7 linked regions of the Homo sapiens genome follow. The protein of the gene in region 4 interacts with the protein of the main gene of each other region in a pairwise test. Each region holds a gene or a part of one and is shown on either strand. Other genes may lie near its edges. The genes, in order: SCARA3, LSM3, TCP11L1, CNOT7, TNRC6C, PATL1 and PSMC2.

Evidence for each region.
Region 1: the proteins of CNOT7 (region 4) and SCARA3 interact in a two-hybrid assay, tested with the Homo sapiens proteins (one large-scale study listed by BioGRID and IntAct).
Region 2: the proteins of CNOT7 (region 4) and LSM3 interact in a two-hybrid assay, tested with the Homo sapiens proteins (one large-scale study listed by BioGRID).
Region 3: the proteins of CNOT7 (region 4) and TCP11L1 interact in binary tests that used the Homo sapiens proteins (3 or more experiments, as listed by UniProt).
Region 5: the proteins of CNOT7 (region 4) and TNRC6C interact in binary tests that used the Homo sapiens proteins (3 or more experiments, as listed by UniProt).
Region 6: the proteins of CNOT7 (region 4) and PATL1 interact in binary tests that used the Homo sapiens proteins (3 or more experiments, as listed by UniProt).
Region 7: the proteins of CNOT7 (region 4) and PSMC2 interact in a two-hybrid assay, tested with the Homo sapiens proteins (one large-scale study listed by BioGRID).

What each region holds. Positions count from the first base shown.
Region 1 is NC_000008.11:27,654,402-27,657,901, reverse strand, and holds part of SCARA3 (scavenger receptor class A member 3), read right to left. Parts: intron 1,121-3,500; coding exon 1,022-1,120; intron 1-1,021. UniProt on the Homo sapiens protein: Seems to protect cells by scavenging oxidative molecules or harmful products of oxidation.
Region 2 is NC_000003.12:14,185,317-14,188,816, reverse strand, and holds part of LSM3 (U6 snRNA-associated Sm-like protein LSm3), read right to left. Parts: intron 1-3,500. UniProt on the Homo sapiens protein: Plays a role in pre-mRNA splicing as component of the U4/U6-U5 tri-snRNP complex that is involved in spliceosome assembly, and as component of the precatalytic spliceosome (spliceosome B complex).
Region 3 is NC_000011.10:33,060,072-33,063,571, forward strand, and holds part of TCP11L1 (T-complex protein 11-like protein 1), read left to right. Parts: intron 1-1,443; coding exon of another isoform or gene 1,444-1,458; coding exon 1,459-1,655; intron 1,656-3,500.
Region 4 is NC_000008.11:17,240,358-17,243,857, reverse strand, and holds part of CNOT7 (CCR4-NOT transcription complex subunit 7), read left to right. Parts: intron 1-235; exon of another isoform or gene 236-416; intron 417-672; coding exon 673-866; intron 867-3,500. UniProt on the Homo sapiens protein: Has 3'-5' poly(A) exoribonuclease activity for synthetic poly(A) RNA substrate. Its function seems to be partially redundant with that of CNOT8.
Region 5 is NC_000017.11:78,045,703-78,049,202, reverse strand, and holds part of TNRC6C (trinucleotide repeat-containing gene 6C protein), read right to left. Parts: intron 359-3,500; coding exon 1-358. UniProt on the Homo sapiens protein: Plays a role in RNA-mediated gene silencing by micro-RNAs (miRNAs). Required for miRNA-dependent translational repression of complementary mRNAs by argonaute family proteins.
Region 6 is NC_000011.10:59,655,538-59,659,037, forward strand, and holds part of PATL1 (protein PAT1 homolog 1), read right to left. Parts: intron 3,410-3,500; coding exon 3,329-3,409; intron 2,188-3,328; coding exon 1,993-2,187; intron 1,064-1,992; coding exon 962-1,063; intron 509-961; coding exon 419-508; intron 204-418; coding exon 1-203. UniProt on the Homo sapiens protein: RNA-binding protein involved in deadenylation-dependent decapping of mRNAs, leading to the degradation of mRNAs. Acts as a scaffold protein that connects deadenylation and decapping machinery.
Region 7 is NC_000007.14:103,350,643-103,354,142, reverse strand, and holds part of PSMC2 (26S proteasome regulatory subunit 7), read right to left. Parts: intron 1,414-3,500; exon of another isoform or gene 1,254-1,413; coding exon of another isoform or gene 1,217-1,253; intron 223-1,216; coding exon 185-222; intron 1-184. UniProt on the Homo sapiens protein: Component of the 26S proteasome, a multiprotein complex involved in the ATP-dependent degradation of ubiquitinated proteins.

The sequences.
Region 1 (3,500 bases), about 10 Mb from region 4:
ACAGAAAACCAAAGACCACATGCTCTCACTTATAAGTGGGAGCAAGACTGAATACATGTAGATGCTGGGTGCAGTGGCTCACGCCTGTAATCCCAGCACTTTGGGAGGCAGAGGCGGGCGGATCACGAGGTCAGGAGATCGAGACCATCCTGGCTAACACAGTGAAACCCCATCTCTACTAAAAATACAAAAAATTAGCCGGGCATGCTGGCTGCCGCCTGTAGTCCCAGATACTTGGGAGGCTGAGGCAGGAGAATGGCACGAACCCAGGAGGTGGAGCTTGCAGTGAGCCGAGATCACACCACTGCACTCCAGCCTGGGTGACAGAGTGAGACTCCGTCTCAAAAAAAAAAAAAAAAAAGGTTGAATACATGTAGACATAAAGATGGCAACAATAGACTTCAGTGCATACTAGATGGGAGAGGAGGGAGGGGGTTATGGGCTGAAAAACCACCTATTGGGTACCTGGGCTCACTACCTGGGTGACAGGATCATTTCTACCCCCCCAAACCTCAGTGTCACGCAATATAACCAAGTAACAAACCTGCACATGTGTCCCTTAATCTATAACAACAAAAGTTAAAATTATGGAAATAGATAAATAGATGGCACATATTAAAAAAAAAGAAAAAAGAAAAGAATCGTGGCACAGCTTAAGGCAATGATGAGGAAAGGGTTGACCTGGCAGGAGGTTTTGCAAGGTCTTGAAACTCTCATCATTTCAGATGCATGAGGCTATTTTGGGAATGGACTATCTTTGGCTTCCTTCTCTGCCTGTAGACTCTGGCTAGATCTGTGGTCCACCCAGAATCCCCTGCTCCAGTCCTGGGAGTATCCCAGGGTAGCAGCCCTCCTCTAATGGATGGAGATCCGGCTGGGGAGGGAGCAGGGAGCTGGGGATAGCCTCTGTGCCTAGAAGGCTGGTGAAGGTTGCTTGGTGCTGGGGCACTGTAGCGTGGGGAGGGCACCCCTGCCCCACCCTGAAGATCACTGCATCACAGTCATCAGCCCATCTACTTACCCAGGCCCTGGAGATTTTTCTGCATTAACACAAGCTTCTTGTCATAAATAGACTGGGTCAAGGAGATGTCTTCGGAGAGAGAGTCCACTTTTCTGAAAACTGTAGGGAAAACAGATGAGAAGCTGGGGCAGGGTCTAAGCTCAGAGAAACAGCAGTCATTCCTTGAGAAGGCATCTTTATCAGCTCCTCTGCAACCAAAACCTTTCACCCTTCTTCTCTCAGGCTTCTTCATGGCGGTTAGGGAAGATACTTCTTATGGCCAGAGTTTGCCACAAGGCCCTTTAGAAACAGAATAACTCACCCCACACCCCACATGTTAGAAATAGGACCTGATCACAGAATGGAACAGGGAAAATTCAGAAAAAAAATTAAAAAAAAATTATTCTTATTCCTACCACCCAAAGGTTGCTGCCATCAGTGTCTTCATGGATTTCTTCTAGTCTTGTCTACATTGATAACCATTCTTCAGCTACATAGATATATACAGTGTTCCCCTCTTACCTGCAGGGGATACATTCCAAGACCCCCAGTGGATGCCTGAAACCTCAGTGTATGGAACCCTAAATATGCTATGTGTTTTCCTATACATACGTACTTAAGATAAAGTTTAATGTATAAATTAGGCCTAGTAAGAGACTAACAACAGCTAATAATAAAATAGAACTATTAGAACAGTATGCTATAATAAAAGTTATGTAAATATGGTCTCTTTGTATCTGAGAATATCTTATTGTACCATACTCATCCTTCTTCTTGTGCTGACATGAGATGACACCATGCCTACGTGACGAGATGCAGTGGGGTGAATGACATAGGCATTGTGACTTAGTATTGGGCTACTACTGACCTTGACCATATGTCAGAAGGGGGATCATCAAGCCATGATGTTGCCGATTGACCTAGGGTAACTGAAACTGCGGATAAACGGGGACTACTGTACTTTCTTAGGCAACAAAAGCAAAACTGGGATGTTCTGAACATCTCATCTGTTTTCTTTGATGCTGCTTTATCAGTATCATGTCACGGACATTTTTCCATCCAGGGTTAAATCACTTTAAAATCACTACTTTTGGTATCTGCATGGCACTCTATATAAATAATACAGCAATTATGTAAGAATCTCCTACTGTTGAGGACACTTAAAGTACCTCTTCTTCTGAGCTCATAAATAAAACTTGATATATAAATATAAGTAATGCTTAATTCTAGAAATAATCCTTATATATGATGGTTATGTGTATATGATAATTCTCTTGGGATAAATTGCTTAAAATAGAATTATGGGACCTAGGGTATTAACATTTTTGAAGTCCTTGATACAAGCTGCCAAACTGCTGCCCAGAAAAGATTACACCACTTTATACCCCACGGGCAGCCTTGCACTCTACTAAGGGGGCCATGTTGGCCAGTGGTTAGAGCACGTCTTGGCAGCAGCAGGACGCCTGGCTTTTTCCAGCGGGTGCCTGAATGGGCCTGGTAGTGAGGGAGGGCATGGGTTGTTCTGAGGTTCAGCAAGATGCTTCCCACAGATCCTCTTAAGGTCAAGTACAAGGGGAAAGAATTAGCACCACCAAGAGCACTGAGTAACACAGCTTCTAGTCCTAGTTTACATCACATTTGTTGGGTGACTTTGGGCAAGTCAGTTACCCTTTCTTGAGCTCAGTTCAATCATATGTAAAATGAAAATGTGGAGCTCGATGACTCTAAGGCTCTCATCAGCACCAAAATTCTATGCTTTCAAATTATTTGGAATCTCCAGGCTCCAGTTAATATTGTACATCTCAGAGCTGTCAGTAGATTTACTTAATTAGTAACAGCAACATGTTGAGAGAGTTTGGGAATAAGCACATGCTGTTACATGAGACAAGCACTGTACAGTTTACAATAGTTATGATTCCATTTGAGCCTCCCTACAATTAAGATTTCATGCATAGATGAACAAAGACACAAAGAGACTGAGTGACTTTGATTCCTATTCCTATGCTTCATTAATTCTACTTCCAAGCCAACAGCCGAGGCTCACTCCACTCCATATAATTCATTCACCTGTTCATTTCTTTTTTCTTTTTTTCTTTTTCTTTTTTTTTTTTTGTGAGACAGTCTTGCTCTGTCACCCAGGCTGGAGTGCAGCAGTGTGATCATGGTTCACTGCAGCCTCAATCTTCTGGGCTCAAGTGATCATCCCACTTCAGCCTCGTAAGTAGCCAGGACTACTGGCATGTGCCGCCAGGACTACTGGCATGTGCCACCATGCCCAGTTAATTTTCAATTTTTTTTTTAATTGAAATGAGTTGGGGTCTCACTATGTTTCCCAGGCTGGCCTCAAACTCCTGAGCTCAAGTGATCCTTCCACCTTGGCCTCCCAAGGTGTTGGGGTTACAGACATGAGCCACTGCACCTGGCCTTGCTTATTTCTTCATTGTGCATCTCAGGCTTAATAATTATATATTTGCTTTTTAAGCCATTTTTCCTCACTTTT
Region 2 (3,500 bases), on a different chromosome or scaffold from region 4:
AAAAAAAGATAAAGATAAAATTATTTACAGCAGAATAGGTTTTACTAGCAAAATATTGGAAATGGCTATCTGTCCATCAACAGGAAAACAGTTAAATTATGGTACATCTACACAGTGAAGTACCATAAAGCTAAAAACGAAAGCACAAGGAAGCTATGTATGAAAGGGAAAGAGCACTGTGATAAAAAAACAGGGGAAGGGAGAATAACTAACACTCATTAGCATATGCATAAAGACACGAGAAGATTCTCAAGAAACCAGTAATAGTGCTTATGTCTGGGGGTGGGGTGTAAAGATGATGAACAGAGGCTGGAGTGGAAGACATTTTACTGCACTGTGTTCCTTTCTGCATTTTGTAATTTTAAGACTGTGTGAGTCTAGTATCTATTCAAAAAGTTAAATTAAAATGGAAGCAATTTAAAATGAGTAAGAAAAGAAATATGTGTTAAGTACTATACGGTGATATGGACCATATGGTCTCAGCATGGACCATAAAGAGTTAGTTATGTATGAGGGAGCAGGTCTAGAGCTGCTCTAATATGAGTGCCACTAGTCACAGGTGGCTCATTAAATTAAAATTAAATAAAATTAAATGTGCAGTTCCTTAATCACACCAGCATCCATTTGAAGTGCCAAATAGCCACATGTGGCTCATAGCTCCTGTAATGACAGCATAGATAGAAATTTTCACTGCTGCAGACAGTTCTATTATTACAGTGCTAATCTACAGAAAGGTCTAGAAGAGCCATCTGATGCTGTAGAAGGCCTTCGGGCAAGCAGAGGGAGCAGAGGGCTTAGTTACAAAAGGGCACAACGTCCCCAAGAGAAACTGTCTGGTGAGCCAAACTACGAGGTGTTTGGTGAAGGAAGGTAGTACACATGATGGACAGCCGAAAAAGTAGTCTGGGTCAAATAACACAGACTGTTCACAATCTGTAAAATGGAAACTCCAATTATGGAGGACCAAGAATCAGAAGAGTAAGACTGACTGCTTTCCACCTTCCCATTTATAAGTCAGCAGCCAAATTAATTATTTAGAAGTCAATTATGTAAGTTATAGGGGGAAAAAAACCCAACAACCTGATGGTTTATGGGTCCCCCATACTGTTTTGGTGGTAAAACGTTGATGTTCATTAGTTATTTCAATAGACGAGAGAGAGAGCGAAATGTAAAATGGGCCAAGGTAAGAAACCATTTAGTCTGGTTTCCCATCTTGGAGAGGAGTAACAAGAGCGCACAGGAGAGTGAAGTAGTTGTTCTCCATGGCACTGAACCAGATGCAGACACTCTCTATAATATCACTGTCTTTGCTTTCTATGTCTATAGTTAATACACATTTACACACTAAAGTATTCTCAGTCATCCAAAGATTCAATTTTAAATGTTTTACCCAATACATCATGGCAATGTGAAAAAGAACTCATTAACTAAATAGACTTTGCTTACTGTTCTCAGCTGCAACTCTAGGCGCAAGAGAGGCCACATGCACGCAGCACGCAGCGTTCAGGAGCTAACCAGCCCCAGTAGCCTTTCAAGGCAGCAATTAATCTTAATGGAGGTCAGTAACTACTGAGACTCTGTTACAGACACCCCACCCAGAGAAATGCACATGTGCACAGACACATAGCACCTTCAAACAGTGTCAGGAGGAACCGCACTTGGAGCAGACTACTAGGGATGACACAGGTGGACCCTGCTGTTAGTTCACTGCAAACATGGAGTAAGTGGCAGTGTTCCCTTCTCTGTAATAGACACCACAGTTGAAGAGTCATTTCTGTCACAAGCAGAATTCAAGACAAGAGCATTAAAATGCTTATGAAGAGTCTACTCTCATGGTAAAATTCTTATGTTAATGATGTTACATGAATAAAGCAGAATATTAAAGCCACATATTCCATATTTTATCACATTTAAGGTATCATTTGTAAGCTTAGTTGAGCTGAAAAAGGATAAATTTTGCCAATTAAACTATGACACAATTCTTTTTTTATCACATCACCTGTAAGATGCAATCAGATTTTTAAGATGCTAAAATTTAAGAAAAAGTGCATCTTAGTACTTATGATTGTGTCCATGTTAAGAAAACAATAACCACTAAACAATAGTTAATAAATGAAATTCCTAAAGGGGAAAAAATGCAGATTTTAAAAAATGCTATTCTTTCTTGGAGAAATAAGCCAGCAAAAATACATAAATAAATAAGTAAAAATTTTAAAAAAAGAAAAAAATGCTAAATGTTTACACTCAGAAGGAGAAAGAACACTAGCAAAGGAGTCAGGTGTGGTCAGAGAGAGGAGGAAAGCCAGGATAAAGCAGAACTACAAAATCCAGTGAAGGCTAACAGTTTAACAGTGACAACGTGCCTGTCACTATCTGAAGGCTTTTCATGTAGCCCTCAATGAATCCTCCACAGTTGTATGAAGTGGGTCCTATCATTACTCCCATTTTACAGACAAGGAAACATATCCACAGACAGGTTAGGTGAGCTGGCTCAATTAAAAAGGTGGTAAGCAAGGGAGTCAAAATTTGAATCCATGTAGTCTTGTACTCTGAGCCCACATTTTAACCACTATGCCCTGGCAGGGTCAGAAACTGTCTTTCCAAATCTTAAAGACCTTTCTTTCTGCTACGGCCTGGCATAGTGGCTCCCACCTGTAATTCCAGCACTTTGGGAGGCCAGGAGTTCGAGACCAGCCTGGCCAACATGGTGAAACCTGTCTTTACTAAAAACACAAAAATTAGCTGGGCGTGGTGGCACATGCCTGTAATCCCAGCTACTTTGGAGGCTGAGGCACGAGAATTGCTTGAACCTGGGAGGCGGAGGCTGCAGTGAGCTGAGACTGACATTGCACTCCAGCCTGGGTGACACAGTCAGACTGTCTTTAAAAAAAAAAAAAGACCTTTCTGACAAGATCACTGGTGATAACTAATAAATGTGATTTTTTTTAAACACTGAAGAAATAAAATGAATCTGCATAGCCCAGTGAACTACTATTTTCTAAAGAACCAGTGCCTGATGTAACCAAATCATGCATGAGTAAGAGATCCATTTGAGGTGCAAGGCAGATTAATGAATTTTCACCTAACAAGAGTACGAAAAGTTTACTGTTACCGTTTCAGATTCCAGATGGCAAATAATCTTTGACTGACTACCACTTGTTCAGTTTGGGTGTAGTATCAAAGGTAGAACATTCACAAAACAAACTCCTTCCTTTCCAACTACCTATCTGTGTGGTCAGATTTGCTTCAATTACAACAACAACTCATGATAGATTTAACGCAGAAAAAAGATATGAGAATCTTCTAGCTGTTATCGATTAAGCGGGGCATTAAAGAGATTTGCAAAAATGTAAAACAAAGACATTCCTCATTAAAATTTTGTTTTAGAAAATAGTTATTGTTCATAAAAATGTTACTTACAGTAACACGTGATAGGTTTTTTTTTGTTTTGTTTTGTTTTGTTTTGAGACAGAGTCTTACTCTGTCCCCCAGGCTGGAGT
Region 3 (3,500 bases), on a different chromosome or scaffold from region 4:
TGTTGTGAGAGTACTGGGAAGAGTTTTTTCTTGTTGTTGTTGTTGTTTTCTTTGAGATAGAGTCTCCTCACTCTGTCACCCAGGCTGGAGTGCAGTGGCACGATCTCTGCTCACTGCAACCTCCGCTAGGCAGAGTTTTGTAGCCTGAAGAGCCGTAATATTAAGGCCTGGACCTGGAAGCTGGGGCATAGTGGAGGACTCACTGGTAGGGTGGAAGCAGCTACAGTGCCTGCATCTAGCACTTAACTCACAACATGAAAGCCTGGGTTTCCCAAAGCTGGGGGGTTACGGAGAATATTATCAGCAGAAGAGAGGGTGAAGCCAGATGGCCCAGGAGTCATGACCGAGAGCTCAGGGTAAACTGGAGCTGCATCCCCCTGCCCCAGTGAAGAGCAAACCACAGCTGTGACCTTGGCCGCCCACTTGGTTTTAAGGAAGCAGGAAGCCTCCACTAACAGAGCTGCAACACCTGCTGGGACCTGACAGGTGCAGTTTTTATCAGATGATGTGTGAGATCCTCCAGCTCTCTCTCTGTATCCCTCAGAGTGCCCCCTGCATTACCAAGCTTAGAAAAGCAGGGGTGCAGGAGGGCTGCTGAAAGCCAGATGGGGCTTCCCTGACAGAGTTCACTTTCCCCCAGGTTGAAAGGAAGCCAGATTGATACAAGGTTAAGATCTAAACAAGGAAAAGCCTCATCATCAGTGTAGAGGATACTTTACACAGGGAAACTCTAGCTGGTGTCTCATCCTATCTGTCTCTAGAGCTGGAGTTGCCAGGGCTTTGGGGTCCATCTCATGCAGTGGTCAGGATGGGAGAGAAGGGAAGGAAGGTTTGTTAAATACCAGGTGGGTGGCAAGGCCTGGCTAGGTGTCATGTATTTGTTACTATTATTATTATTATTTTAGACAGGGTCTAGCTCTGTCCCCCAGGCTGGAGTACAGTGGTGTGATCACCACTCACTGCAACTTTAACCTCCAGGACTCAAGTGATTCTCCTGCCTCAGCCTCCCAGCTAGCTGGGGCTACAGGCATGTGCCACCATGCCCAGCTAATTTTTGTATCTTTTGTAGAGACAGAGCCTTGCCACATTGCCCAGGCTGGTCTCGAACTCCTGGGCTCAAGCAGTCTTCCCACCTCAGCCTCCCAAAGTGCTGGGATTACAGGCATGAGCCACCATGCCTGGCTTATTCATTATCTTGTTTAATCCTCACAACAGCCTGTGAGGTGGGTGTTGTAAATTTGCCTATATCAGGCATCTGAAACTCAGACACATTATGACTTGCCTGAGATCCCTCAGTTAGTCATTGGCACTACTATGATTTGATCCAAGTTTTATTTGATTCCAAAGTTCATACTTTATACTTTATCACTCCACCAGGACATCGATTGTCCCTTAAGTAATTCCGAGAAGCATCCCTTCTTGGTGTCAAGGTAATGTGTGCAGCTTTGTTTTTCACAGATTCCCTGGACTTTGTCACCCAGTGGCTGGAAGAAGCCTCAGAGGACCTTATGACTCAGAAGTATAAACACGCCCTGCCAGTGGGGGGAATGGCTGCTGGCTCTGGGGACATGCCCAGGCTGAGCCCTGTTGCTGTCCAGAATTACGCTTACCTGAAGCTTCTGAAGTGGGACCACCTCCAGAGGCCGTTCCCCGAAGTAGGTCTCCTGAGCCATCTCACTACTCATATTTGTTTTTGTGCTGCTGAACTTTTTAAAAAGAATAGCTTTGGCCAGGCACGGTGGCTCACTCCTGTAATCCCAGCACTTTGGGAGGCAGAGGCAGGCAGATTGCTTGAGGTCAGGAGTTCAAGACTTGCCTGGGCAACATGGCAAAACACCCTCTGTACTAAAAATACAAAAAATTAGCTGGGCGTGGTAGCAGGGGCCTGTAGCCCCAGCTACTTGGGAGGCTGAGGCAGAGAATTGCTTGAACCTGGGAGGCGGAGCTTGCAGTGAGCCAAGATTGCACCACTGCACTCCAGCCTGGGCGACAGAGCGAGACTCTGTCTCAAAAAATAAAAATAAATAAGTAAATAAATAAAATAAAAAATAAAAAGAATAGCTTTATTCTGATATAATTCATGTACCAGAAGATTCTCCCTTTTAAAGTGTACAACTCAGTGTTTTCTAGTATAGTCACAGAGTTACGCATCCATTGCCACTGTTTAATTGAGAACATTTTCATCACCTCCAATAGAAACGCTGCATCCATCAGCGGTCACTGCCCTCCCCCCCTCCCTCCAACGCCTGAAGCCACAGATCTGCTTTCTGTCTCTATGGATTTGCCTATCCTGGACATTTTATTTAAATGAAATCATACACTACCAGCCTTTTGTGCCTGGCTTCTTTCACCAATGTTTTTTCACGTTGTAGCACATATAGCAGTAGTTTAGTCCTCTTTTCCACTGTGTTTTTTTTGTTGTTGTGGTAAAATACACATAACATAAAATTTACCATTTTAACCATTTCTAGTTGTCCAGTTCAGTGGCATTAAGTGCATCCACATTGTTGTGCAACCATTGCCACCAGCCACCTCCAAAACATTTTCATTTTTCCTTCTGTGAAACTGTCTTCCCACCAAACACACCAAACAGTAATTCCCATTGCCCCCGCCCTCTGGCCCCTGGCAGCCACCATTCTACTTTGAGTCTCTGTGAATTGGACTAATCCGGGTACTTAATATGAGTGGAATTATACAATCTTTGTCCTTTTGGGTCTGGCTTATTTTACTTAGCATAATGTCTTCAAGGTTCATTTATGTTGTAGTATGTGTCAGTGTTCCCTTTCTGGGTTTTTTAAAATTTTTTTAAATTTTAGAGACAGGGTCTCATTGAATTGCTCAGGCTAGGTGGTACGACAGCTCACTGTAACTTTGAACTTCAGGGCCCAAGTGATCCTCCTGCCTCAGCCTCCTGGGTAGCTAGGACTACAAGAGTGTACCACCACCCCCAGCTAATTTTTAAGTGTGTTTTTTGTGGAGACAGGGGTCTCGCTATGTTACTCAGGCTGATCTTAAACTCCTGGCCTCAAGTGGTCCTCCCTCCTTGGCCTCCCAGTGTTGGGATTACAGGCATGAGCTACCATGCCCAGCCCTCCTTTCTTTTTTAGGCTGAATAATATATTTTACTGTATGGATGTACCACATTTTGTTTATTCATTCATCAGTTGACAAACATTTGGGTTGTTATTATAAATTATGCTTCTGTGAATATTCCAGTACAAGTTTTTGCATGGACATATGTTTTTACCTCTCTTGGTTACGTACCTAGGATTAGAATTGCTGGGTTACATGGTGACTCTTAAGTTTAACATTTTGAGGAACTGCCAAACTGATTTCCAAAGCAGCTGCATCATTTTACCATCCCACCAGCAATGTATGAGGCTCCAGTCTGTGCTGCTGAATTTTTCTCCTGTTTTTACTCATCTTGATGGAAACCACAACAGAGGTGTGGTTGTTCACAGCTTTATCTAAAGAAACTTCTTCCCCTTCCATGCTGAACA
Region 4 (3,500 bases):
TATTTGATAAAGGTGTACTTACCCATGATTAGAACTAAAATTGTTTTCTTAACCAATGGAAATTCATAGTGATCATTGATTTCTCAGATGATAAAGAGTGGCAACATAGAGAAGTGATAACATCCTACAAGAGTGAGTAGGTGGCATGCAATTCTTGACAGCATGCTTTCTGTGGACTATAGAGAGAATATTGTTTAAGCCAGAGAAATTAGGAAGCTAATGATGTTTTTCTTAGGGTTTTGGTGTTGAGAAAAACCTTGTGTCAGAGAAGCAATTGGAAAGTACAGGGCGTTTTCCCCTCTTTTGAACCAGTTCTTCAAGAAACTTGGTTTTAGCATTGGAATACTGTGAGCATCATTTCATGTATCCTTTGGGAGACAGGAATTTATGATTTTCCCCCCTTTCTTGGTTATAGAGTAAGTATTTGGTTAAATTTATCACATGTATCTCGTATAGTAACTTTTTGGATATATTTAAGGAAAGGTTATTAAGTTTATAGAGTTTTATGGTTCTAAAAAGTGATGTTCTTTCTAGTTAAAATATACTTTGTAATTGAATATAAATGTGTAGAATATCATCTGTAGGATTCTTTGATTTGCATCAAAAATTAAAAATGTGTGGATTGTAGTTTTGACTGTTTAGTACATAATGAATCTTAAAACTATTTTACAGGACACCGAGTTTCCAGGTGTGGTTGCAAGACCCATTGGAGAATTCAGGAGCAATGCTGACTATCAATACCAACTATTGCGGTGTAATGTAGACTTGTTAAAGATAATTCAGCTAGGACTGACATTTATGAATGAGCAAGGAGAATACCCTCCAGGAACTTCAACTTGGCAGTTTAATTTTAAATTTAATTTGACGTAAGTGGGAAATAACTGTATAACCCAGACTTTTTTTTTTTTTTCTTTAATCTTAGGAATTGATTTTCCTCAAGTATGGTGACATGCTAGGTGAATTTGGTGTAGTTATCCTGGAAATATATAAAACGTAACATTTCAAAAGCGTGGTTTTCTTTTTTACTATGGGACCAAAAAAAATACTTTGATGTTAAAGATGTTATATTTAAAATATGACTGCAGCTTTTTTTGTATTTGGAAGACTGGGTATTGAAAGTACTTCTGATAGAAAAAATAATCCTACATTAGTTTTACTTTCAAAAATTTTGTGTGCAATTTGAAATATAGCCTTTTATAATATTTATCCTTCTTGTGAAGATTTTTGTTGCATTCATATTCCAGTTTATGAGTAGATTACATGTCAAATGCAGTAAGACGTTTTCTGGAACCTTGGGTACGTTTTCCTTTCAAGTCAGTATTATCATTAGGTTGCCACTTCAGCCCACAAAAGCTCTCTTAATTTACATATAGGAGAAGTAGTAGTATCCTTGAACCTGGTGTTTATCATATGTCAGAATCTTCATTCTAACTCAAGCCCTGGGTCTTCACCCAGTTTCCTTAGTTATAATATTTCTGTATTATTAATAGAAGTAGTCTTGATAGCTAAGGGAAGTTTTAGATGTTTTTAGAGAGGGGCAGATTATTTGCAAACTAAGTTGGGTAAATAAAATAATACATTCTTATTACAGCAGGACCTCAAATGACATTTTCTTCAACATTGTTTCATGGTAACCTTCATAAAAAATAAAATTGATTCCTGACCCGGGCCACTACCTGAGTGGAGTGTGCACGTTCTCGTGTATATGTGGATTTTCTCCCGGGTCCTCTGATTTCCTCCCACATCCCAAGGCTGTGCACGTTAGGTGAAATGGTGTGGCTAAGTTGTCCCAGTGTGAGTGAGTAGGTGTATCTGTGTGAGTGCACTGTGCCACGGAACGACATGCTGACCAGGGTTGGTTCCCACATTGTGCCCTGAGCTGCCAGAATAGGCTCTGGCTTTCTTCACCCCTCAACTGAATAATGGAGCAAATAATTATCTTGTTTTTATTAATTGTTCTTAAATTTACATATAGCTCACATTTATTTCATTGTTTAATATTAGAAGTATTTTGGTCTTTATCTAGAAGTTTGATGATTTTTTTGTGACCAGAAATATGCCGTAGGAACTTAACTCTTGTTTTTATCAATTAGCCTGTGGTAAAAATTGGTTTCGTTATCCATCTTTTGGCTTAAAGTTGCAATTTCCAAGAACTTATTGATAACGTTGAGTGAGTACTTAACTGTATGTTGCAATATTGCATTGTTCTTCTGTTTGACATCCTACATTTGTGTCATACATCCTAATATCTGGTAGGTAAAATAGTGAAAGAAACTGTAGGCAATTAATGGTAGTGCCAATGTATGAATTCTTTCTTCCTGTTCTTTGTCAGATAAACAAAGATATTTAGTATACACAATTTTACGAAAGTAGGGCTTAGGAAAAGCAGAGTAATGATGCCTGTGGTATAGTAGTGTGGCTTGTAATTACACTGTGTTTAGCCTGACTCTCCATTTCACTCTTTTGGGTTTAATAATATACTCTCCATTTGGAGACCAAGGCAGGAGGATTGCTTGAGGCCAGGAGTTCTAGACCAGCCTGGTCAACATAGACTCTGTCTCTACAAAAAAAAAAAAAAAAAATGAAACTAAGCCAGGCATGGTGGCTGTGTACCTGTAGTCCTAGCACTACAGGTACAGGTACAGGTAGCTAGCACTACAGGTACAGGGAGGCTGAACCAAGTGGATTGCTTTAACTGAGGTGTTCAAGGCTATAGTGATCTAGATTGCACCACTGCACTCCAGCCTGGGCAACAGAGTGATACTTTGTCTCTAAAAATACCTGTATCTATACACACACGCACAGTCTACAGAACCTTGTAAAGTAAACTTGTCCAACCCTTGGCCCAGGATGGCTTTGAATGCAGCCCAACAGAAATTCGTAAACTTTCTTAAAACATTATGAGATTTTTTTGTTGTTGTTTAAGTTAGTTTATTTAATGTGTGGCCCAAGACAGTTCTTTGAGTATGGCCCAAGGAAGCCAAAAGATTGAACACCTCATTTATAAAGGGTGCAAAGTACTCCACTCAAACTGAAAACCTTTTATAAGAACTACATCTGTGAAACACTGAAAATTGCCTCCTATCCTTTTTCTCAAATGATAAACCTTTATTAAAATTAGTGCTTTACCATTTCATTTGTTCCATGTTAACTTTTTGTTCAAGTGAATTAGAACATTGTTTTTAAATTAGATACTATTGTGATCTCAGTACGTGAGAAGGAGGTAACCCATCAGCTTCTCAGTTTGGATAAAATTGACAGTTTCCTTTTCTAGAAACACCTTTGTTCGAGTAACAACTGCTTTCTTAGTACAGCCTGTAAGTGACATTTTTTCTTTCTTACTCAAAAATGACTGCTAAAGTTTACTACCAAGTTTTGCTACCATTTACACTAGGGGTGTCTAATCTTTTGGTTTCCCTGGGCCACACTAGAGGAAGAATTGTCTTGGGCCACACATAAAATACACTAATGCTAACAATAGCTGTTGAGCTAAAAAAAAA
Region 5 (3,500 bases), on a different chromosome or scaffold from region 4:
CTTCCATTACTGTTCGCTCCCCCTGCTCCAAGGGCACTCTGATTAGAAGGGCTTTGGACGAGTGCGCCATTGGTGCCATTATTGCCATTTGTCTTCTTGGTATGTCCAGTGAAGTTGCCCTGGGCACTCCCTGTAGCCATGCTACTGTTCTCTGAGCCACAGTTGGAGGCAGAGTCAGTGTCTGTAGTACATTCTGAGGCAGATTCAGTCTCTGTTCCTGTGATGGAAGGCCACGCCTCCTTGTCAGTCCTATCTATTATCACTTTATCCCAGCTGCAGTTGGCTTCGCTTCTGTAAGTAGGCTGCTGTCCCCAGTGGGAATTTTCATAATGATCTGCCAATCCACTATGACTGAGATCTGAAAAAGATGAAACAAAATTCAAAATTAGATTTTCTACTCATTTGTCAATGAATCAACTGTTAACTAGTCTTTGGGGAAGCTCTTTATTTCAAGTCTTCAAATCTGAATGACAAACACTAAAAAAATGACTTAAAGAAAAAAGCTATTTGTCTTCTTAATAGATCCCATTTTAAAGAGCGTTAATGTTTTTAAAATTATATCAATTCTTACCACTACACTGTACTATTATTCCCCCTGGAGAATACTCACAATGCACGTTAGCACATCAGCATCTCTGAAAGCATCTGTAGTAAAGGCAGCTTTGAAAGATAAGTGACTTTGCAACTCCTATAAATACAGAGACTGAGAAACACTGGCAATGACAGTAAGTTCACGTAGAGTTTTGAATAAAACTTGTAGTTCTCTTTAAGACCTCTAATTAGGTTACAGTATTATATAGAGGCGAAACATGGCTTTCAGTAGAAAAAAATTGTAAATTGCATTGCAGAATCATAACAGAACCAATATTTGGGGTGGGGGAAGTGGTGACGGAAGGAAAGAGAGAAAAGACATATGAGACAATGCTATCTTATGTTATCAAAAATACTAAGGATTAGAAATGTTTAATTAGCTGTATACTACTTTATCTGATCTTATCTGCAATTTGGTTTATCACTGTCTCCTGCACATTCATAATAAAAAAAAAAAATCTGTAGCTCAAGGACATCACTAAAAGAAGAAAAAGAAGGAAGAAGAATCTCAGCCCCACAAGTGCTATCTTTTTGGATCTCTAAAGATTCTCTCAATCCTTGTTTTCTATTTCTTTAGAGCCTTTTCTTTGGAGATCCCTAGAATAACTTTATATGCCATCTTCTTATAGTATTTAACTCTTCGGGTCCTTTTAAAGAATCCCCTGTTTGGATCTACATTTTATTTCCTATGACTTTAACAATTATTTGAGTATTTCCAACATTGCAGTCAAACTTATATTTCGATCAACTTTTTGGCAGACTTTATTCCAAGTATGTATCACTAAAAAATAAAGTAAAAGAAATGTTAAAAAAATAATTTAACCCAAACATACAACAAACTCACATATGTGATTTAGAAATCCTTGGTGAGTTTCTCTAAATACTACAATATACAAATAAACTGCAATAAAATATTTTCTTCTCTTTTAGATCCTTTTAATTATGTTCTCTTCAAATTTATTTTAACAAGAAAAATCGTATGGACAATTAAAACATGAATTTCCCACATAAATTCTCTTTTAAAGTTTGATGGAGCTAAAGGAAAAAAAGGAAGTGTGCAAAAAAAATTAGCATTAGAAAGACCATACTAAAGCTAATATCAACCTAAAAGAGATTTTTATTGCCTGATTTAAGAGTAATGTAATGATTTTAGAATTATGCTCTAGGTGATTTCAAAGTAGGTACGTAATTCCAGGTGAAAACTACAAAGGAAAAATGAAGACAGGCAACAGAAAACTTTAAATGTTGAAACTGCTATAAAATGACTAGGTTCTTTTCACTGCCAATTATTAGGGGTTGGCTCTATAACCCTGGTTTATGACAATTTGGTTTTGCACATACTCTAAAAACTATCTAATATAATAACTAACTAAAGAGATAAATAAGCCATTCCTCATTTAACACAGAAAATAAGACCAAGTTAACACACAGAGATTATGGCTTGTTGCCAGCAAATATTACCACATTTCATTTTACCATCAGTTTGGGTTCCCTCATGGACAGGTTGTGCCATAAGGCAGGCTGCCTCTTGACTAAGACAGCACTCACTGCAACCCACACCGAGAAAGCAGGGGGTTAACAACCTGGCTGACCAATGCATTCTTTTCCATATGTGAGGTGCCATTCGAATACACAGTATTATTGGTTCCATTCCACAACAGTCACACTGTAAAATGATCTGCCCTTTGTTAATGGTCTACTTTGAGGACTTGAGGATTGCTCAGCCCCCAATTTGACAGGTTCATACTCAATTATATGACACGTTTGAAAGAAGGATAGCATTATAAGCTGGTGGCTAATAAATGCTGTTGGACAACTGTCTAGCCACATGAAATGAAAGTAGATCCCTTATATCGTATACATGCCAGATAAAGTAAAGAGCGAATTAGGAAAAGCAAAACTTCTTAAAGCTTATTAAGGAAGCAAAGGAGACCATCTCTATGACCTTGGACATTGTATCATCTTGTAGAAGACATGAAATACGTAAGACATAAACAGGTGATAAATTTGACTATGCTAATATTAAAAACATCTATATAACAAAAGATATCATATAATGAAAGCTAAAAAAACAAGCCACAGGCAGGGAGAAGATACAACAGATAATGTATGGTTATCAGCTTAAAGAATTCCCGGCCAGGCGCAGTGGCTCTCGCCTGTAATCCCAGCACTTTGGGAGGCCGAGGCAGGTGGATCACCTGAGGTCAGGAGTTCGAGACCAGCCTGGCCAACATGGTGAAACCTCGTCTCTACTTACACAAAAATTAGCCGGGTGTGGTGGTGCACGCCTGTGGTTCCAGCTACTTGGGAGTTGAGGCAGGAGTATCACTCGAACCCAAGAGGTGGAGGTTGCAGTGAGCCGAGACTGTGCCACTGCACTCCAGCCTGGGCAACACAGTGAGACTCCATCTCAAAAAAAAAAAAAAGAATCCTAAAAATCGGTAAGAAAGAGGCCAACAACCCAACCAGAAATGGGAAAAGGATAGGAACAGGCAATTTAGAAAAGAGAAAACTCATAAGCCATTAACATATGAAACAATAATCAACCTCATTAATAATCAAGAAATGCACTTTAATGTCACACTGTAGATGAAAGTGACACAACACTACAATTTTTGAATTGTGGTTCCCTCTGGGGGTGGGATGGGGACCAGAATGGGGTTAGAGGATGATACCTATAACATTTTTAAAATAGAGAGCCCTGAAGCAAATATGGCATGATATTATGTTAAATCTCTATTGTGAACACAGTTATATTATTTTCTATATACTTTCTTCTATTGAAAAAATATTTTCAAAATTTTTAATTTTTATGTTTAAATGTGATACAAATCAGGCGGCAGAGCAGTCTGATTAAAAACCCATCTGATCCCTGAATTAAGTGTCTAATTTCTGAAGGTGAGTTCCTT
Region 6 (3,500 bases), on a different chromosome or scaffold from region 4:
TGGGGTCCTGGGCCAGGAGGGTGCTGCTGTGGAGGTGGTGTAGCGGAGGGTGGAGCACTAAAGAAGGCACGGAAGCCTGGTGCTGGGGGAAGCATCTGCCCAACTCGCCCTTGTAGCAACTTGGGATTCATGGCAGCAAGTGGACTACCAACAAATCCAGGGACCCGTGCAAACTGGCTGGGAGACATCCGTCCAGGCTGTAGCTACAAAGAGGAAGAAGATCTTAGATTTAGACAATCAGCAAGTCCCCTTGCTTTTGTCTACAGAAAAGTGAATACGGTTTTCCATCAATAACTTTGTTTGAAAAAGTAAAGGCAAAAATAAAAGTAGTGATTAACAGCAAAAAAAGGGGCTATTATCTAATGAACTTTAGGAAAGTAGGAGAGTTCTTTATGGGTAGGGCTAATCACAGGCTTACCTGTGCTCCTCCAAGAAGCTGTGCTCTCTGGAGGGGGCTGAGAACAGGAGGAACACTAGGAGGAAAAGGGTGACCCAGGAGGGAAGAGTTCTAAGGTAAAAAAAAAAAAAAAAAAAAGAATATGCTATAAAACAGGGGGTACATCATAATAAGGAAACTCAGCAGAAATGCAGTATAAACTTGGATATAAAAACTCTCAAATTACAGAGTCAAGCTCTGGAATAGAAAAAAAGAGTAATGCTAGAAATTATAAAAACACCATGACCATGTGACATGAAAAAGAAGCAGTAGAACATGGGACTGAAATGGTAGGAACCAGATGATCACAATGAGTTTAGATTTTTAAAGGTAAGAAAAGAGCTGATGTAAGAAACAACTGTCCTCTGACCTGGGGACAATTAGATCCAGCAATTTAAGTAAGGAGATTATAAAAAATAGGTATAATTTAGGAGATGTCAGCAAATCTAAATACTGGCAGTGATCTTACAAATAGTGATCAGAAAATACATACTGCACATTTTTGTTAGGCTTAAAGTGACATACCGGGACACTGCAGAGCTGGTTTGGAGACATCCTCTCACCATAGGGAGCAGGATAACGAGGTGGCATTGGGGGCCGAACATGGACAGGCTTCGGACACAGAATCTATCAGGACAAACATATATACAACTACACTCAATGAAATCAGTTTTTCTTCCACCTACACTCCCTCCCCTCAAGTACTGGTAGAGACACGAACTCAATGCAAAGCCCTACTTCTAAGCAAATTGCTATGGCTACAGGTTCAAATACAGAACCTTGGGCCACTTTCTCTCACAAATCAAGTAAAGTGTCAGCATTAACTGAGGAAGATTTAGCTAATTCTCCAGTTATCCCCACCCTTCCATGCTGTCTGAGGGAGATACCAGCAGATATTCTGACTTGCAAATTCTCTCCAAGAGGATATATTTTGGTAGCACTGAGGGAGAAGGAATGATAAGAAAGCTGGAGGATTAACTAAGTCCTATTCTGAAGCCCCTGTGATATGGCCGCCATGCTCAGCACTTTTGTGATACATTGTGACTCCACCATTTCATAGGATTTGAGCCTAACTAGGCCATACCAACACCACCCTCCCCCCATACCTTCCAAATTGGCCTTCCTTTTCAGCTGCTGGTTTCAGGTGGAGGAAAGTCTATGGAACAGGACTGCACAGGCTCTAGGGAAAGCAGGGATATCTTAAAGGTAAAAAGGGATGTGGACAATGCTGTGTGTTCCCACTCCCCCCGGCTTTCAGTTATCTCTCTGACAATGTTTTGGGCAGCCAGCAAAACACTTCAAAAAGGATATATGTGCTAAATGTGGCTAACTACCCTTTTTTCTCCCCCAATTAAAAGGCAGCAGCAATAGCAGCAGCAAAGGGTATCAGGGAATGTGTCTCTTATTTGTACTAATTTCTCCTCTAACTAGCTATTTTTCTTTCTAATCTAATGCCTACCCAAAATTTCCACCCTCCACCCAACATCACCAATTTTCCAAATAATTTTGCCCAGATTCCCAATATCCTGGGCTGTGTGCTTGTTAATGAGAGGTACCTGTTGGGTGAAGCTGGGTACAGCCATCTGTTTAGGTGGGGTGCCTATGGGGACAGCTCTAACAGGAGGACTGCCAATGATAGGTGAAGTTGACCGCCTTGGTAATGCTCGTTCAGAAAGGTCCCGATCATCTTCTGGACCCTGGGGGGGCCTCTGAGGCAAAGCATATTCTAATACAGACACTGTAGGCATTTCCTAATTGAGGAAGTGGTAAAATAAAATAGAAATTAACTAACTTGGTATGTTTTAGTAATCTCTACAGATGCCAAAAATACCTTAAGAAATTTTTTTAACTTTTTATTTATTTTTAATTCACATATAGTAAAATTCACTTTTTGGTATATGGTTCTCTGAGTTTGGTAAGCGGCTCATGCCTGAAATCCCAGCGCCTTGGGAGGGTGAGGTGGGAGGATCACTTGAAGCCAGGAGTTTGAGACTAGCCTGGGCAACACAGCGAGACTTCATCTATACAAAAATAAAAAAACTAAGCCAGGCATGGTGGCATGCACCTGTAGTCTCAGCTACTCAAGAGGCCGAGGTGGGAGGATCACTTGAGCCCGGAAGTTCAAGGTTACAGAGAGCTATGACTGTACCAGTGCACTCTAGCCTGGTTGACACAGCAAGACCTGGTCTCAAAAAAAAAAAAAAGAAAGAAAGAGAGAGCAAGAACAGTTGCATCACTCCCCAGAAATTCCATTGTATTGTTCCTTTGTAGTTAACGCCTCCTGCCATGTCCAACCACTAGTAAACACTGATGACCTCTCTGTCCCTATAGTTTTGCATAGAAATGAGTTTTTTTTTTTTTTGAGACAGAGTCTCACTCTGTTGCCCAGGCTGGAGTGCAGTGGCGCAATCTTGCCTTACTACAACTTCCGCCCTGCCTCCCAGGTTCAAGTGATTCTCCTGCCTCAGCCTCCTGAGTAGCTGGGATTACAGGTGCCCACCACCACGCCTGGTTAATTTTTGTATTTTTAGTAAGGATGGGGTTTCACCATGTTGGCCAGGCTGGTCTTGAACTCCTCACCTCAAGTGATCCACCTGTCTCAGCCTCTCAAAGTGCTGGGATTACACGCGTGAGCCACCACGCCTGGCTCAGATATGACTTTTTAAGTGATTCAAATCACAATCATACACTAACAAATTTAAATTCCAATGGCTCCCTTGCAACCTTTACCCTGGAGGCTAAAGAAAGGCATAGCTAAGTGCTGGATGCAGTAGTCGACATAATTCTAGCAAATGAAAGACCTATAAACCCCTTCAGTAAGGAAAGGATGACGACAGGAACTTAAAATTTTTGGATATTATAAATTTTATGTAAAGAGAAAATATTTAATACCTGAGCAAGCAGTGGTCCTCGGATTCGCCTCAGAACTTCAGATCCATCCCAGATACTGGAATTCAGACTTCCTGGTTGGGGCTAACAAAAAAGGAAAACATACAGAGTCTGAAATGTTGTATACTCTCTGGGTGACTTATCTGCTGCTGGGGAACAAGGTTCCAAAAGAGCC
Region 7 (3,500 bases), on a different chromosome or scaffold from region 4:
TTAGTGAAGATTACTAGAAGCTGCCAGACATTCTTTTCTAATTGTTTCTTTTTATTTTATTTTTTGTTTGGTTTTTTAATTTTTGGTTTCTTAACTTCTTCTAATTATTTTGGAAGGACAATACCAAAACAGTTTTTATTTCAACATAAAACATCTATAGTTTGTAGACACTGAAAGGACTTACATAAGTTTTCAACAAGGCAATATCCCCCTCATCCAGAGCTGAAAGAAGAGAGACAATACGTGAGATTCAAAAAGAAACTAGAATTAAAATTTTTAAAAAAGAAACTAGAGCTTTTTTTCTGTTCGATTCAAATTGTTTTAAGTGAGTGTCAAAAATCAAGCAAGATTATGATGATACATATTCAATCAAATAGTTCCTGGACTCAAGGAATTTTTATCTAACTGGGAGGAAAATAGGTTTTTAAAAGTACATAATATACGTGATGACCTATTTTATATAGTACATACATAAAACACATCCATTAAGGATCTTGGTTAAATTATACCATAGTCATACAATGAAATACAATGCAGGCCCCGTGCGGTGGCTCCTGCCTATAATCCCAGTACTTTGGGAGGCCCAGGCAGGCAGATCACCTGAGGTCAGGAGTTTGAGACCAGCCTAGCCAACCTGGCGAAACCCCGTCTCTACCAAAAATACAAAAATTGGCCTGGCATGGTGGCGCATGTCTGTAGTCCCAGCTACTCAGGAGGCTGAAGCTGGAGAATTGCTTGAACCCAGGAGGCGGAGGTTGCAGTGAGCCCAAATCACATCACCGCACTCCAGCCTGGGTGACCGAGAGAGACTCCATCTCAAAAAGAAAAAGAAAAGGAAATACAATGCAGCAATTTAAAATGATAACAGAACATAGACATAGAAAGCAATCCAACAAATGCTATTCAGTGAATCAGGTAGGTTTAAAAAAAAGGATATAATGTGCATATATTTTGTTTTTATATAAAAATCACTTAAAACACATGTGGAGAGTAACCTGAAATGGTGTTCTACGGTGGTTATCTGGGATTTCAAGTGATTTACAGTTAATCTTTTCTATTCACAAATTCTGCATTTCTGAATTTGCTTAGCTGCTCAAATTTATTTGTAATCCCCAAATCAATACTCATGTGCTTTCATGGTCATTTGCAAATAGACAGAGTGGTAAAAAATTTAAGTTCACAACTAAGAACAAGTCACTCTACCCTCTTGTTTCAGCTTTCATACAGAGATGACCAGAAGATGGAGACCGTAGGGGAAATGCCGTGTAATCCAAGCAGTTCAGGCTTTGGGGCCAGGTGGACAGGGTTTGAATGCCAGCTCTGGAATCTGTTAGTGGGGTGACCTCAGCCAAGTCACTTAACACTTCTGAACTTTGTTTTCTCTTTTGTGAAATAAAGAAAAAATGAATCTACCAGGATGAGTTGTTTTTAGGATTTAAGATTATAATCAGCCGGATGCTGTGGCTCACACTTGTAATCCCAGGCCGAGACAGGCGGATTGCTTGAGTCCAGGCGTTCAAGAGCAGCCTGGACCACATGGCGAAACCATGTCTCTACAAAAAATGCAAAAATTAGCATGGTGGTATGCACTTGTAGTCCCAGCTACTTGGGGGGCTGAGGCAGGAGGATCGCTTGAGCCCAGGAAGTGACAGCCACAGCAAGCTGAGATTGTGCCACTGCACTTCCACCTAGGTAACAAAGTGAGACCCTGTCTCAAAAAAAAAAAAAAAAAAAAGATTATAATCTATGTGAGATGTATATATATATTTCTCCTAGGATCAAATGTTCAGTACTTCCCAACTGACCATTCACAGCAACTTTATAGAATATATCTATCATGAAAAACAAGAACCAATCATACAATCGTACATATTTTAAGGAAAAAAACGGCAGGTCTTTTTTTTTTTTTTTTTTTTTTTTTTTTTTTAACTAAGTATGAGTAGAGGTAGGAAAAAGCATGCTTAGGTAACAGCAGCTAGACCAGGTAAGCTGAAACATAGTATACACATTAGGCGGTAATAGGAAATTAAGTAGATGGAGGTTTGGGGCTCTAGTGAAGTAGACCATAAATTCTAGAATGAGGTAATCAGGGCCACTACAGTTGACATTATAGGAACTGTGCCTTAGGAAGAATTAGCTCGCTGAGATATGAAGAACAAATTGGAGTGAGGCCACTCGGAAGTCATAAGAACCTAAATAAAAATGGTAGCAATGAAAAGAGAAAGGAAGAGTTGGATTAAAAAAAAACCCTCAGAGGAAGAATCTACAGCACATGGCAAATGACTAAATGTGAGAAGCTGACGGGAGAGGATCAAACATGATGCCCAGGCTTTGGACCTAGGTACCACACAACAGAAGTCACAATAGAAAGTGGTTAGCAGAGGGAGATACGAAGTTCAGTTTAAATTTTATTAAGTTTGTGGTACTGTTATCTGCACAGAAGAGTTAACTGCTATCCTTTGAAAGGCCTGCTTATAAGGTTGGTTCTTGGCTCTTGTCTGAGAACAATTTCAGAGGGTTCCTACCATTCCCAGAACTGAAAAAGGTGGTTCACTGTGCTTAAAATGTTTATACAAACTACAGGGTTTATGCAGAACACTTATCTTCCTTCAGGGAGTCTAGAATTTTGGTATGTTCTAGGCAGAGATGCCTACATTACCAACCCATAATAAAAACCCTGGGTGCCAAATCTCTAACGAGCTACTCTGGTTAGCAACATTTTACACATATTGTCACTACCTGTTGCTGGGGGAATTAAGTACATCCTGTGTGACTCCACTGGAAGAGGACCCTTGGAAGCTTGTGCCTGGTTTCTCCTGGACTTGGCCCCATGTGTCTTTTCTCTTTGCTGATTTTGCTTTGTATCCTTTCACTAAAATACATCATAGCCATGAGTATGACTACATGCTGAGTCTTATGAATGCTCTTAGCAAATTACTGAGCCTGAGGGTAGGCATGAAGACTATCCAACACACCGGCATATCCTGATGCAGCATTCTAAAAGGCGGAGATAAATCTGGCTCTAGAGGTCAGATGCTAGCTTGAGGTTAAAAAGGTTGACTAGGGAAGCACATACAGTCCAAGACCAGAATGGATGAAATTAATAGAAACAAAACTTTAGAGAAGCCATGTGAGGACACAATGAAGGAAAGAAAAGAAGCAGGCGGATAAACGGGAAGGTTCAGCAAGAGAAACCAAGGGAAGCTCAAAGGCTCAACAATGTCAAAAACACAAGGATTAGGATTGAGAAATACTAAAGATCTGGGAATTAAGAAACTACTGCTCAGTTTCAACTGATTTATATAGATAGAAACTAAAGTGCAAGAAGTTTAAAAATAAAATAAGAGCCTGGCATGGTAGCTCACCCCTGAAATGCCAGTACTTTGGGTGGCCAAGGTGGGAGGATCACTTGAGCCCAGGAATTTGAAACCAGTCTAGGCAACATAACAAGACCCTGTCTCTACAAAAAAAAAAAATAAGTTTTAAATGAGCATGGCATG